Linked DNA regions of Homo sapiens. The protein of the gene in region 2 purifies or fractionates together with the protein of the main gene of each other region. This does not show direct contact. Each region holds a gene or a part of one and is shown on either strand. Other genes may lie near its edges.

Region 1 (7,528 bases), on a different chromosome or scaffold from region 2:
ACTGCCTTACACCCAGGTAACTGACCCTTCACACATTTACGGTGCCCATCTGACATTCATAGCATTTAGAGGGGGGACGAAGCCAGGTTACACAGGACCTTGCAGGCCATGGTAAGAATTTTGGATTAAGTGTTTTTAGCTAGGCACGATGGCTCACACCTGTAATCCCAGCACTTGGGGAGGCCAAGGGGGGTGGTGGATCATTTGAGGTCAGGAGTTCGAGAGCAGCCTGGCCAACATCGTGAAACCCTGTCTCTACTAAAAATACAAAAATTAGCCAGGCGTGGTGGCACATGCCTGTAATCCCAGCTACTCTGGAGGCTGAGGCAGGAGAATCGCTTGAACCTAGGAGGCGGCGGTTGCAGTGAGCCGAGATTGCGCCATTGTACTCCAGCCTGGGTGACAAGAGATTGTCAGAAAAAAAAAATTGTTTTTACTATTTTTGGTTTAGAAAAATTCTTTTGGATTTTATTCCAAGTGTGATGGGAAGCCTTGGGGGGTTTTAACTAGGGAATAATGTGATCTGGTTCACATTTTCAAAAGATCATTCTGCTATATAGAAAAGTAATGAGGCAACAGAGGAAGCAGGAAGATCCATTAGGAAGCCATATTATAGTGGCCCACTAGGTGACAGTAGCCAGGACCAGGATGGTAACAGAAAAGCTGGAGAGAAGCAACAGCCTCAGGATGTCACATGGAGTGTAACCAAAAGAACGTTCTGGTGAACAGATGACAGCTGTGGTGGTGGGACAGAAGGGATAATGAATGGGGAGTCATCAAGGATAACTCCACGGTTGTGGCTTGTTCCAACATTGAGAGGTCAGGGGCAACCAGGGGGGGTCATAGTTTTCGTGAGAGAGATCAAGAGTTTGACTTGGGATGAATAAATTTGCCTACACTCAAGCCTTCCCAGATACCTCATTTCCCTTACCTGCCACACCCACGCAGCCTTCAAATTCACAAATTTAAACTTCTCAATACCGACTCTCTTATCAAATGTACCCCTTCAACTTCAATACCCATTGCCTCTGTCCTGCTCTGGTCCTCTCTTGCCTTGACATATATAACAATAGCTATGAATAAACTAACACAAAGCACTTAATAAGGGTGTATCTCTCTCTCCCACCAGCCATCTTTGATGGCAGAAACCATGTCTTATTCGTATTTAATCCCCAGCTCATATTTATTTGGGCACAGAGTGGGCACTCAAATATCTGATGAACTTGATGAACTGAAAAGAGGTCTCCTTAAACAAGATATCATCTCCCGAAGAGAGAAGTCCCAACCATATAAAATGTATGATCAAGTCCCAGAAAACTTTGCCTTCCCAAGGAATGTGTTTCTAATTTGGTTTCAAAGCACACTGGTTCCCACTTTTACCACTTTCATGACATTGGACAATAGTACTACTCTTTTCTACTTTTCTTCCAGACCTGGGGACTTGATATTCTCTTAGCCTCATATCATCTTTGCAAGGAGTTCACAGAGAGGATTATTCTCCATCTTACAAATAGAACTGAGGCCCAGAAGGAAATCCCTTAGTGTCTTTTTGATGGAACACAGTTCTGTGATGGGAAGCTATCCCAGTCTCCCATCCTTGCAAAACTGCTGCTTAGTACTCAGGTGTTCTCTAGGTTGTTCTGGAACATTTACAAACTTCTTTGGGTGTGAGGATGTGCTGCCACAAGGCCAAAAATCACATTCTCTCTCTCTCTCCTCTCCTCTCTACCATTCTCCTCAGTGCCAGGTGGGGACAGATTCCACCCACTGGGCCTGGGAGGAAGAAAAGCACCTTGGCCACTAGTCAGGGAGGAGTCACAGCCAGCAAGAAGAGAGAGACCTAAGTAGACAAGAGTAGTTTCAATGGGAAGAAGCAGGGCCACCAGTAAGAAAACCAGGAGACTCCTTCTGAAAGGCTTCCACCTGGGAGGAAAGATGGCAGCAGTGCCATGAGGAGGCCAGATCCCTCCTCCTCAATCCTCTGCGCCGGGCCCTCCCAGAGTCACTTCTTCAGGGCACCCAGGCTCTTCAGGGTCTCTTGGGCCTGGGTCAGCTGCTGCTGCAGCCTCTGGCGGGTGCTCTCGTTGGAGGCCCGCTTCAGGTGGCCCTGCATCTCCTCCACCATGGCTCGGTGGCCAGGAGTGTTGTGAAACAGCCGCACCGCCCGGTCCCCACAGGAGGCCAGAAAGCGGCCAGTGATGTCAAAGGACAAGTTGGCGATACACTCGCCATGGACCCGCTCAAAGCACTCCTCCTTCTCGCCCCGCCGGGTATTGTAGAGATGAATACTACTGCCACTGGCCAAGGCCAAGACCTGGGCGTTGGGGGAGAGGGCCAGGCGGCACGGCGCGGCACCCGCCGCCTCTTCAAAGCGGCCTGTCTTCAGCAAGTAGGGGTCCTGCTTCTTCTTGTATTCCACATCTGTGTCCCACAGTTTCCATGTACCATCCTTGGAGACAGAAGCCATCCTGCAACACAGAAAATCACAGCTCAAGCCCCAACACACCCTGGCAGGGTAAGCACTGGCCCAACTTGAGCAGCTCCAGCTAGGAAGCTAAGTCAGCTTCCTGCCGAGGGCCAGGCACCCCACCCTCTTCAGAGCCATGGCACAAACAGACAGAAGGACCCTGGTTGTCAAGAGGGGCCAAGAGCCACTGGTCAGACATCAGAGCGGATTCACTCACCTCCGTGAGTCGTTGGAGAAAGCAAACGAGTGCACAGCCGCGGAGTGGCCCTTTAGTTCGAAGGCTCGCACCACCTCCTGGAACTCCCCCTTCTTTCCAAAGCAGACTTCCCAAACCTTCACATCTGGGGTGAAGCCACACGAGGCTACAAATCTGCCATACAACCCAGAAGCCTTTAAAACTTCATTTTCGGAGCATGTTGTTCCTGTAAAACCCCTCAATCTCTTTCCTGAGAAAGTTGATAATCCTCATATCTGGATAATATAAACCTTTAAAGAGTTATTTTGGCCGGGCGCGGTGGCTCACGCCTGTCATCCCAGCACTTTGGGAGGCCGAGGTGGGTGGATCACCTGAGGTCAGGAGTTCGAGACCAGCCTGGCCAACATGGTGAAACCTCATCTCTACTAAAAATACAAAATTAGCCAGGCGTGGTGGCGCATGCCTGTAGTCCCACCTACTGGGAAGGCTGAGGTGGGAGAATCACTTGAACCTGGTAGGTGGAGGTTGCAGTGAGCTGAGATTGAGATTGCACCACTGCACTCCAGCCTGGGCAACAGAGTGAGACTGTCTCAGAAAAAAAAAAAAAAAAAGGCCGGGTGTGGTGGCTCATACCTGTAATCCCAGCACTTTGGGAGGCCCAGGCGGGCAGCTCACCTAAGGTCCGACAGTTTGAGACCAGCCTGACCAACATGGAGAAACCTCACCTCTACTAAAAATAAAAAATTAGCTGGGCATGGTGGTGCATGCCTGTAATCCCAGCTACTTGGGGGAGGCTGAGGCAGGAGAATCGCTTGAACCCGGGAGACGGAGGTTGTGGTGAGCCAAGATCCTGCCATTGCACTCCAACCTAAGCAACAAGAGCGAAACTCCATCTCAAAAAACAAACAAACAACCACAACAAAAAAGTTCTTTTATGTATGTGACCTCAGTTTATCTTCTAGCCTTGTTCTAAGATATGTAACATCCCCGCCCAAAGGTGGCTTGGCACAGTGGCTCACGCCTGTAATTCTACCACTTTGGGAGGTCGAGGCAAGAGGATCACTTGAGGCCAGGAGTTCAGGACCAGCCTGGGCAACATAGTAAGACCCCATCTCAACAAAAAATACAAAAATTAGCCAGGTGTGGTAGTGCACGCCTGTAGTCCCAGCTACTCGGGAGGCTAAGGTGGGAGGATGGTCTGAGCCTGGGAAGTCAAGGCTACAGTGAGCTGTGATTGCGCCACTGCACTCCTGCCTGGGCGAGGGTGAAACCGTCTCAACAAACAAACAAACAAAAAACAAAAATTAGCTGAGTACAGTGGCACATGCCTATAGTCCTGACTACTCAGGAGGCTGAGCTGGGAGAATAGCTACAACCCAGGAGTTTGAGGCTGCAGTGAGCTATGATCGCACCACTGTGCTCCAGCCTGGGTGACAGAGTGAGACTAATTTTCTAAAAAACAAAAACACTGAAGATGAAGAAATAGCGACTAAGGACATGGGGCGACCTGCATGAAATCCCACTACTGCAAGTGGGGAGAGCTGAGACTTGAAGCTCGGGTTCCTGACCCCACCCCGTATGCTCTTCCCACGCGATGAAGCTGGCTCTCTGTTCTGTGCCTGCTCCCCAGCCCCAGCCTCTCGTGGTCCCAGACGCCAATACCCCTCCTTGCCCACCTGCCACAGGGAGATACAGCAGCGTGTGTGTTGTTCATCTGGTTGGTGTTGATGGTAGACAGCACTTGACCCTTCAGGCTCCAGATGAGGACAGTGGTGTCACTGGAGGCAGTCATGATAAACTTCCCTGAGCGGGAAGGGAGTGATGTGGGTCACGGGCAGTGACCTGACCAACTGTCACTCTCCAAAGACACTTACAAGGCCTCTGCTGCCCGAAGTATACATGTCTCCTCCCAGGCCAAGGGTCACTACAGATAAGGACTCTGCTGAAGACTGTGGCCCTTCCCCACCTTCCCTAGGGACCTGGTGTGGCCCAGGGACTCCAGGGGAGCACAGAGCCAGGCTGTTCAGAGCCAGGGACCCCTTGTTCCTCTCAGGTTGAGCAGAACTTTCAGGCAGCATTAACTCATTGAGGAAATAGAACTGGATCTTTCCTTCATGCTTTGGGCAGGCGCCACCCTCTGAATGCCTCTTACCTGTGTTAGCAATGCCAATGTCGATGACAGGCGCCTTGTGCTTTTTAGGGAAGTCCTCTGGGGTGGCTGTGAAGGTGTAGCCCCCATCCTCCCGCTTGGTCATCTTGAAGACACGGAGGGTGTCCCCGTTGGCCAGCCAGACGATGAAGGCTCTAGAGACAGGCAGCAGACAAGTCACGCTCTCACTGGACAAAGAGGCTCTGTGTTCCAGGTCCTGTGCTGGGTTCTCGGGGAAGTCAAGATCTCTCCTCATGCCCCACAGTCTAGCCTTAAAACTTAAGCCCCTGGTTCCAAATCTCATAAAACTCCTCAAAAGGTAAGATTCTGATAGCTTTGGCTCCTTTAGTTTCTCTCTAGGGTTTAGAAACTAAGGCTCATCTGGAAGCCAGGCCAAGGTATTTCCAGGTAGGAAGAGACCTCCCCCTGTTTCCTTGCTGTATAGCAGCCCAGATCTCCAGGGAGCCCCAGGCAGCGCGCAAACTATGTGGATGCTCTTTCTGGCACCCCAAGGGAGGCCCTGGGTCCAGGTCCCTCCTCACTACCTCAAAGCAGATATGGGAAGGCCAAAGCCTGGGACTAGGCCTCTGCAGGCAAACCTGAGGCTCCGTCTTGTCCCACCTGCAGTCAGGGCTGAAGCGCACCAGGGTGGCGTGGTCCAGCTCCACGTTGGCTCTCATGCTGCGGTGCTCTCGCTGCAGGAAGTCCTTGGTGCTCCAGATGCGGATGGTGCGATCATCTGCACAGGTAGCCAGGTATTTGCCATTGCTGCTAAAGTCCATGCAAGATATGTTCCCGCTGTGGCTCTAGGGGAAGGGTGGCAGGAAGTGTCAATAGGAGCTCCTGGGGGAGATGGGGAAGCCAAACCTGGAGCCGGGGAGATGGGGCCCTGTGGCCTGGATTAACAGCAAGCTGAGATTGGGCTGCGATGAGAGGGGACAGAATTAAGCACCCCCGCTGATTCTGATCAGAGGCAGGAGAGCCTGTAACATGCATGGAATACTCCAGAGGAAAAGCCTGTGGGGCTGAGTCTCAGGGTGCACGCTGTGCCAGGTACCCCACGTACCTTCAGAGCTGCAGCCAGGAGGCGGTGGGTGAAGTTGTGTTGTTGAGGCTTCTCCTTCCGAATCCGCTGATATTGTTTCTGCTTCTTGGATCCCGAAGATTTGTCAGGTGGAAATCCATTTGCTTTTTGGCCTATAAGGAAGGGCCATGTTGTTCTCCAGTTACTCACTGATAAGCATTTACTGCCCACCTATGATGAGCCAGGCATTGAGTGGAACAGCAGGAGATTAACCAGATATGGCCCTTGTCTTCTGGAGGAGAATGAGTGTGATATGGGCAAAAACAGAGGCTTTGGCTGGCTGGGTATGGTGGCTCATGCCTGTAATCCCAATGCTTTGGATCATTTGAGCCCAGGAGTTCGAGGCTGCAGTAAGCTATGATCACAACACTACTGCATTCCATCCTGAGTGACAGAGCAAGACCCTGTCTCAAAAAAAAACAAACAGAAAACAGAAACAAAACAGAGGCTTTGGAATCAGACCTGGGTTTGGATTCTGTCTCTACTACTGACTGACTACTGAGGAGGCTGTTTACAGTAAGTCCACAGAGCACCTTCATGTAGAGTGGAAAAGGCGCACTCTCTGGGTTGGGTGATGCTGCTGGGCGGGTACACAGCACGGCCAGTGGAGTGTGGATCCTTGGCCAGACATCCCTATGTAGGGAGTAATGTGCACAACCATCTCTAGCGGCCCTGCTTTGGGTAAGTTAGTGAATTGCTCTGGACCTTGGTTTTTTTTTTCTTTTCTTTCTTTCTTTTTTTTGGAGACAGAGTCTTGCTCTGTCGCCCAGGCTGGAGTGCAGTGGCGTGATCTCCGCTCACTGTAGCCTCTGCCTCCCAGGTTCAAGCAATTCTTGTGCCTCAGCCTTCCAAGTAGCTGGGATCATGGGCGTGCACCACCATATCCAGCTAATTTTTTTTTTTTTTTTCAGATGGAGTCTCGCTCTGTCACCCAGGCTGGAGTGCAGTGGCGTGATCTCAGCTCACTGCAAGCTCTGCCTCCCGGGTTCACGCCATTCTCCTGCCTCAGCCTCCCAAGTAGCTGGGACTACAGGCGCCCGCCACCATGCCCGGCTAATTTTTTTTTGTATTTTTAGTAGATGTGGGGTTTCACCACATTAGCCAGAATGGTCTCAATCTCCTGACCTTGTGATCCACCCGCCTCGGCCTCCCAAAGTGCTAGGATTACAGGCGTGAGCCATGGCACCTGGCCCCAATTTTTTTGTTTTTTTAGTAGAGATGGGGTTTCACCATGTGGGCCAGGCTTGTCTCCAACTCCTCACCTCAAGTGATCTGCCTGCCTTGGCCTCCCAAAGTGCTGGGATTATAGGCGTGAGCCACTGTGTCCGGCCCAGCCTTGGTTTTCTTAAAGAGAGGTTGAGAACTGGGGGCGGTGGCTCATGCCTGTGATCCCAGCATTTTGGTAGGCTGAGATGGGAGGATTGCTTGAGCTCAGGAGTTCGAGACCAGCCTGGGTAACATAGTGACACCCCATCTCTACAGAAAACTTTAATTAGCTGGGCATGGTGGTGTGCGCCTGTGGTCCCAGCTATTCGGAGGCTGAGGAGGGAAAATTGCTTGAGCCCAGGAGTTCAAATGCAGTGATCGTGCCACTGTATTCCAGCCTAGGCGACAGAGTGAGATTCTGTCTCA
Region 2 (5,224 bases):
CAGCCACAAAGATCTGGGAAGTGTTTTTCCAGCGTACAAGTTGCTCATAACCTTGCGTGGCAGACATTATTTGTTTGTAATATGGAGATGCTATGCATTTTGACCTTTCTAGATTGTGTCTAGCTGGTTCATGCCCCATCAGCCCAGCCTGCCACATGCCTCGATGTGGCACATGTCAGATACACCTCGGTATCAATACAACTAGCATCACCACAGCCCTTTTCTCTGAGAGCTCTCCCTTTAGGGGAAAGTCCTCTATATTCTCAGTCCTTGGCACAGGGTAGGTACTGGGCAAATGTCTGTCAATTATGGATCTTGTGAATTTTGAAAGGGCCTGCCAAGTCTTTGGGAAATGATGAAAAAGATACCTGTCTGAAATGGGTTAGGAAGAAGTTTTTTTGAGGATAGGTTTATGACTCTTCCTAGATCTATGATCCCATTTTATAAATTAGAAAATCTACCATTTTGGGACTAACTCCTCAAAATAAGAGTCAACATACTTAATTTAAAAAAAGTTTTATTAAATCATTTAGACTTGAAAGAAGTCACAAGTTAACACACTTAAGTGTGTTCTGTACACCACCAACCCAAATGGATTGATTTCAGAATTTTTATAAATAAAACATAAACATATTTACAGTGAAAAATAAAAACATGTTAGCAAGTGAGATGATTAAACTGTTACCTATAATCAGTTTGGGGGAAGTACCAACCTACAGGATTACATATAAGACACTTAAGATTTCATTAGGCTTAAAAAGTCCATAGTTGAAGAAGTTAGTTGTAATATATATGATCCATTTCTTACTACGGCTTTTTTCCTCCCAAAACTAGACCTTTCAACCAATTTACATAAAAAGCTTCATTTTCCCTTTATTGGAGGTAAAAGTACAAAAAGCTGTAAACCCACCCTAGAACCATCTAAGGAATAAAGCTATTGAATGCTACAAATAGGACTATAAAACTACGGACATAAACCGTTATACAGTTTGTGCTACTTGTCCTCCAAAATAGTGCAGATTCCTAATTTACCCGCCAGGGACAAAAATGGAGTCAGCTTTTTCTAGAAATCAGTTTCAAAATCATCATATCTCTAGAAAGCATATTTCTAGAACAATACAGTTACCACACAGGGGGACTTTCCTTCTTCTGCATTATAAAAATATATCCATTTTAGTTCTCACTATATATATATATTAGGGATTGCTGCTACCTCCTTAGGCAAATGGTGAGGGCTATAAAGCTTGGCCAGCAGCCAGTTTCAAGAGACTAACAAAGAACAAAGATAGCCCTTTCCTTAAGTATAGCAAAACTCAGGAGTTGGCTCAAATTAGGTTATGCCCCCAAATCCAGCTTAAATTTGATATAAAAAAAGTAGTCCACAAAAAAATTGAGCGAAGAACAAACTTTTCAAGTCTGCAATTTTGGACAGGCATATTCTAAGAAGTAGGCTATTATCTGCATCACCTATTAGGGTTGCTAGCACAACTTAAGGCTAATTGCTTGGCAAAGGGCTATGGGAGTTGTTGGACTGTCTTGAATGTTTTGTTCCCGATGAACTCAAGGAGCGAGACCTCTGTCTGAGCACTGTTTTTCCTGGAAAGTCCAAGTCCTCAAATACAGCATTTTCAATGATGTTTATAGCTTCAGGTCGTTCCATGGGGGATGGAGAGAGCATGTCTTGAACCATCACGTACTGAAAATATAAAAATTGTTTTGTGATAAAACGGCCAGGTTTGATCACTGTACAGTTTTTAAAATCAGTGCTGGCAAAATATTTCTGTACATATTTTAAGCTTTTGAGCCATATTCGAGTTTTCAAGTCTCTGATACAACTACTCAGCTCTGCCGTCAATGCACAAAAGCATCCAGAGACAATTTGTAAATTAATGGGCATGGCTGTGTTCCAATAGAACTTTATTATAAAAATAGGTGGCAGGCTGGATTTGACCTGTGGGCACTAGTTTGCCAACCCTCATTCCAAAAAAACATGGACAATTTTTGGGTAATTTGATTTTCTAACACATTATAAAGGATTATTTAATCACATCCCTGAAACATAAATATGATTTTTAAAAATCATCTTATAATTGCATGTAAATCTACAATTATCTCAATAGAAATTTTAATTAGAAAAAATTATGGCAGAGATCAGCAACCAACACCTTTTCTTGGTTTTTAAAAATCTCTTTGAACGTAACATGTACTCTTATGAGCCACCCTGGGAATAGATTCATCAAGTTTGCAAAATACATGATGACAATTTTTAGTAAAACAGACTTAAGTATATGTAGGTATTAATATATTGTTATAAAGTCCATTTTTTAATGCAACCCTTCATTATAATACTGAAAGATAAATTTTGACTTTTTCCAATTTGAAAATGAACACATACTAACTCACTTCAACTTAATTACTTAAGGAAATTCAAGATTTATCAATATATAAATTTCACAGGTGCTACAGTGTGGAACACTGGACATTAGGCTGAAGGAGCCAGGCCCCAGCTCCAGTGTTTGGTTTTAACAAATTCTGGGCTCTTGGGAGCAGGTCTCTTTCCTCTCTAGACCTTTGGCTTCCTCATCTGTAAAATAGGGGAAACTGAGTCGACTGCTAAGGACCGCTTACGTTCTAAAGATGATTCTAAAGAAGATAAAAGATGAGAATTACACATACCTCACAAGGATATTTCTGAGTAAATAATGGTGGAAATTTGAGATTTCTTACATCAGTTAAGGTCTAAAAAGAAAAAAAGTATCACTTATTAAGTTTATTTTGACATACAACATGAAAATATTTTTTGATACTCTAACAAAATGACTAAGAGGTTGTACATCTATCAAATGGAAAATTTATCAATAGCTTTTCCTGATTTAATAACTACATATGTTTCCTGAGCACAGATGTACACTCCATCAAATATCCTCAAAATATACAGCTGGTCTTCCACATCCACAGATTCCACATCCAAGGATTCAACCAACCACAGAATGAAAATATTTAAAAAATTTAAAAATAGATGGTTGCATCTGTACTGGACAGATACAGATTTTTTTCTTGTCATTATTCCCTCATCAATACAGTATAATACTTATTTACATAGAATTTACATTATGTTAGGTACTGTAATTTACAGAAGATTTAAAATACACAGAATATATGTAGGTTCTATACAAATATTACACCATTTTATATAAGGGACTTGAGCATCTGCAGATTTGGTATCCACAGGGAGTCCTGGAACCAATCCCCTGTGGATACCAAGATGACTGTGTGTGTGTGTGTGTGTGTGTGTGTGTGTGTATGTACATTTACATATATGTGTATATATGTATGTGTGGAGGGAGGGAGAAAGAGAAAGGGGAGAGAGAGAGAGAGAAAGGGCCATATTAAAGCACAAAGAAAATATTGGAAATCTTTGTTTCTATGGAGTTGCCTCTTCTGAATATTTCATAAAAACTGAATGATATAAAAGTGGACTTTTGTGTCTGGCTTTTTTCACTCAGCATGTTTTCAAGATTCATCTACGTTGCGGCACATGTTAGTATTTCCTTCCTTGTAATGGTTGAATACTTTTCATTGTATAAAATACCACACTTTGTTTTTCCATTCATCAGCTGATGAGCATTTTGGTGGTTTCTACTTTTGGATATTAGAAATAATGCTCATATGAACAGTTGTATACAAGCTTTTGTCTATGTTTTCATTTCCCTTGAGTACATACCTAGGAGTAGAATTACTGGATTCTATGGTAATTCTATGTTTAACTGTTTAAGGAACTGCCAGACTGTTTTCCAAAGCAGCTGCACCATTTTACATTCCACCAGCAACGTATGAGGGTTCCAATTTCTCCACATCCTAGCCAACACTTGACATTTCCTTTTTTTTTAATTTTTTTATTACAGATACCCTAGATGGTGCTGAAGTGGTATCTCATTGTGGTTTTGATTTGCATTTCCCTAATGCCCAACGATGTTGAGCATCTTTTCACATGCTTATTGGCCATTTGTTTATCCTCTTTGGAGAAAGTTCTATTGCTTTGCCCCTTTTTAAAATGAGTTGTCTTTTTGTTGAGTTGTAATAGTTCTTTATGTATTCTGAATTCTAGACACTTTTCGGATATAGGATTTACAAATATTTTCTCCCATTCTGTGAGCTGCCTTTTCACTTTCTATTTCATTTAATTAATTTATTTAGAGATAGGGTCTCATGGTGCCCAGGCTATTTGCAGGCATAATCATAGCTTACTGTAGCCGTGAACTCCTGGTCTCAAGGAATTCCTTTTGCCTCAAGCTTCCCACGTAGCTGGGACTACAGGCATGTGCTACCACGTCCACCTTGTCTTTTCACTTTCTTGACAGTATTCTCTGAGGCATTTATAACTATATAAATTTTGATGCCATCTGATTCTTGATCCTTTACTTAGGTTAGACCTGTTTTATTTTCCTTTCTGGAAGCTTTTAGGGCCTTTATTTCTGGTGTTCTGAAAATGGTTATTTTGACTGTTTTTTTTTTTTTTTCATTCATTGTACAGAACATTTGGTAGGTCCTTTCGGTTAGAAGATATGAGTCATTTTGCTCTATGTGAGAACTACATCCTCTTCTACCATGGCCAGAGATCAATAAGTAAGATCTAAAACTGATAAAATAAGAAATAGTGACAAGAGCCTAAACTTTGAAAATATGGAGATAAGTACCAGGGACAACAACTAGAAGAGGTGAGGGTAGCTACTTATGAAAGATAGGGAAGAATGTGACAGAGGCCCACTTTATTTTCAGAGACAGGGTCTTGCTGTGTCGCCCAGGCTGGAGTGCAGTGGCACAATCATAGTGATCTTCCTGCCTTAGCCTCTCAAGGCATGTGCTACCATGCCTTGCTAATTTTTAAATTTTTTGTAGAGATGGGGTCTTACTATGTTGCCCAGGCTGGTGTTGAACTCTGGCCTCAAGTGATCTTCCTGCTTGAGCCTCCCAAAGTGTTGGGATTAGAGGTGTGAGCCACCATGCCTGGCCAGAGGGCTACTTTTTTTTTTTTTTTCGAGACAGAGTCTCACTCTGTCACCCAGGCTGGAGTGCAGTGGCGCGATCTCTGCTCAATGCAAGCTCCGCCTCCCGGGTTCACACCATTCTCCTGCCTCAGCCTCCAGAGTAGCTGGGACTACAGGCACGTGCCACCATGCCCGGCTAATTTTTTGTATTTTTAGCAGAGATGGGGTTTTACCGT

The links.
Region 1: the proteins of EIF2AK3 (region 2) and TBL2 purify together in Homo sapiens (affinity purification with western blotting; 3 studies listed by BioGRID). This does not show direct contact.

The regions. Positions count from the first base shown.
Region 1 is NC_000007.14:73,568,505-73,576,032, forward strand, and holds part of TBL2 (transducin beta-like protein 2), read right to left. Parts: intron 6,010-7,528; coding exon 5,879-6,009; intron 5,619-5,878; coding exon 5,434-5,618; intron 4,968-5,433; coding exon 4,816-4,967; intron 4,467-4,815; coding exon 4,340-4,466; intron 3,532-4,339; coding exon of another isoform or gene 3,444-3,531; exon of another isoform or gene 3,251-3,443; intron 2,838-3,250; coding exon 2,685-2,837; intron 2,469-2,684; coding exon 2,003-2,468; 3' UTR 1-2,002.
Region 2 is NC_000002.12:88,556,241-88,561,464, forward strand, and holds the end of EIF2AK3 (eukaryotic translation initiation factor 2-alpha kinase 3 isoform 1 precursor), read right to left. Parts: intron 2,740-5,224; coding exon 2,677-2,739; intron 1,697-2,676; coding exon 1,496-1,696; 3' UTR 501-1,495; downstream 1-500. UniProt on the Homo sapiens protein: Metabolic-stress sensing protein kinase that phosphorylates the alpha subunit of eukaryotic translation initiation factor 2 (EIF2S1/eIF-2-alpha) in response to various stress, such as unfolded protein response (UPR).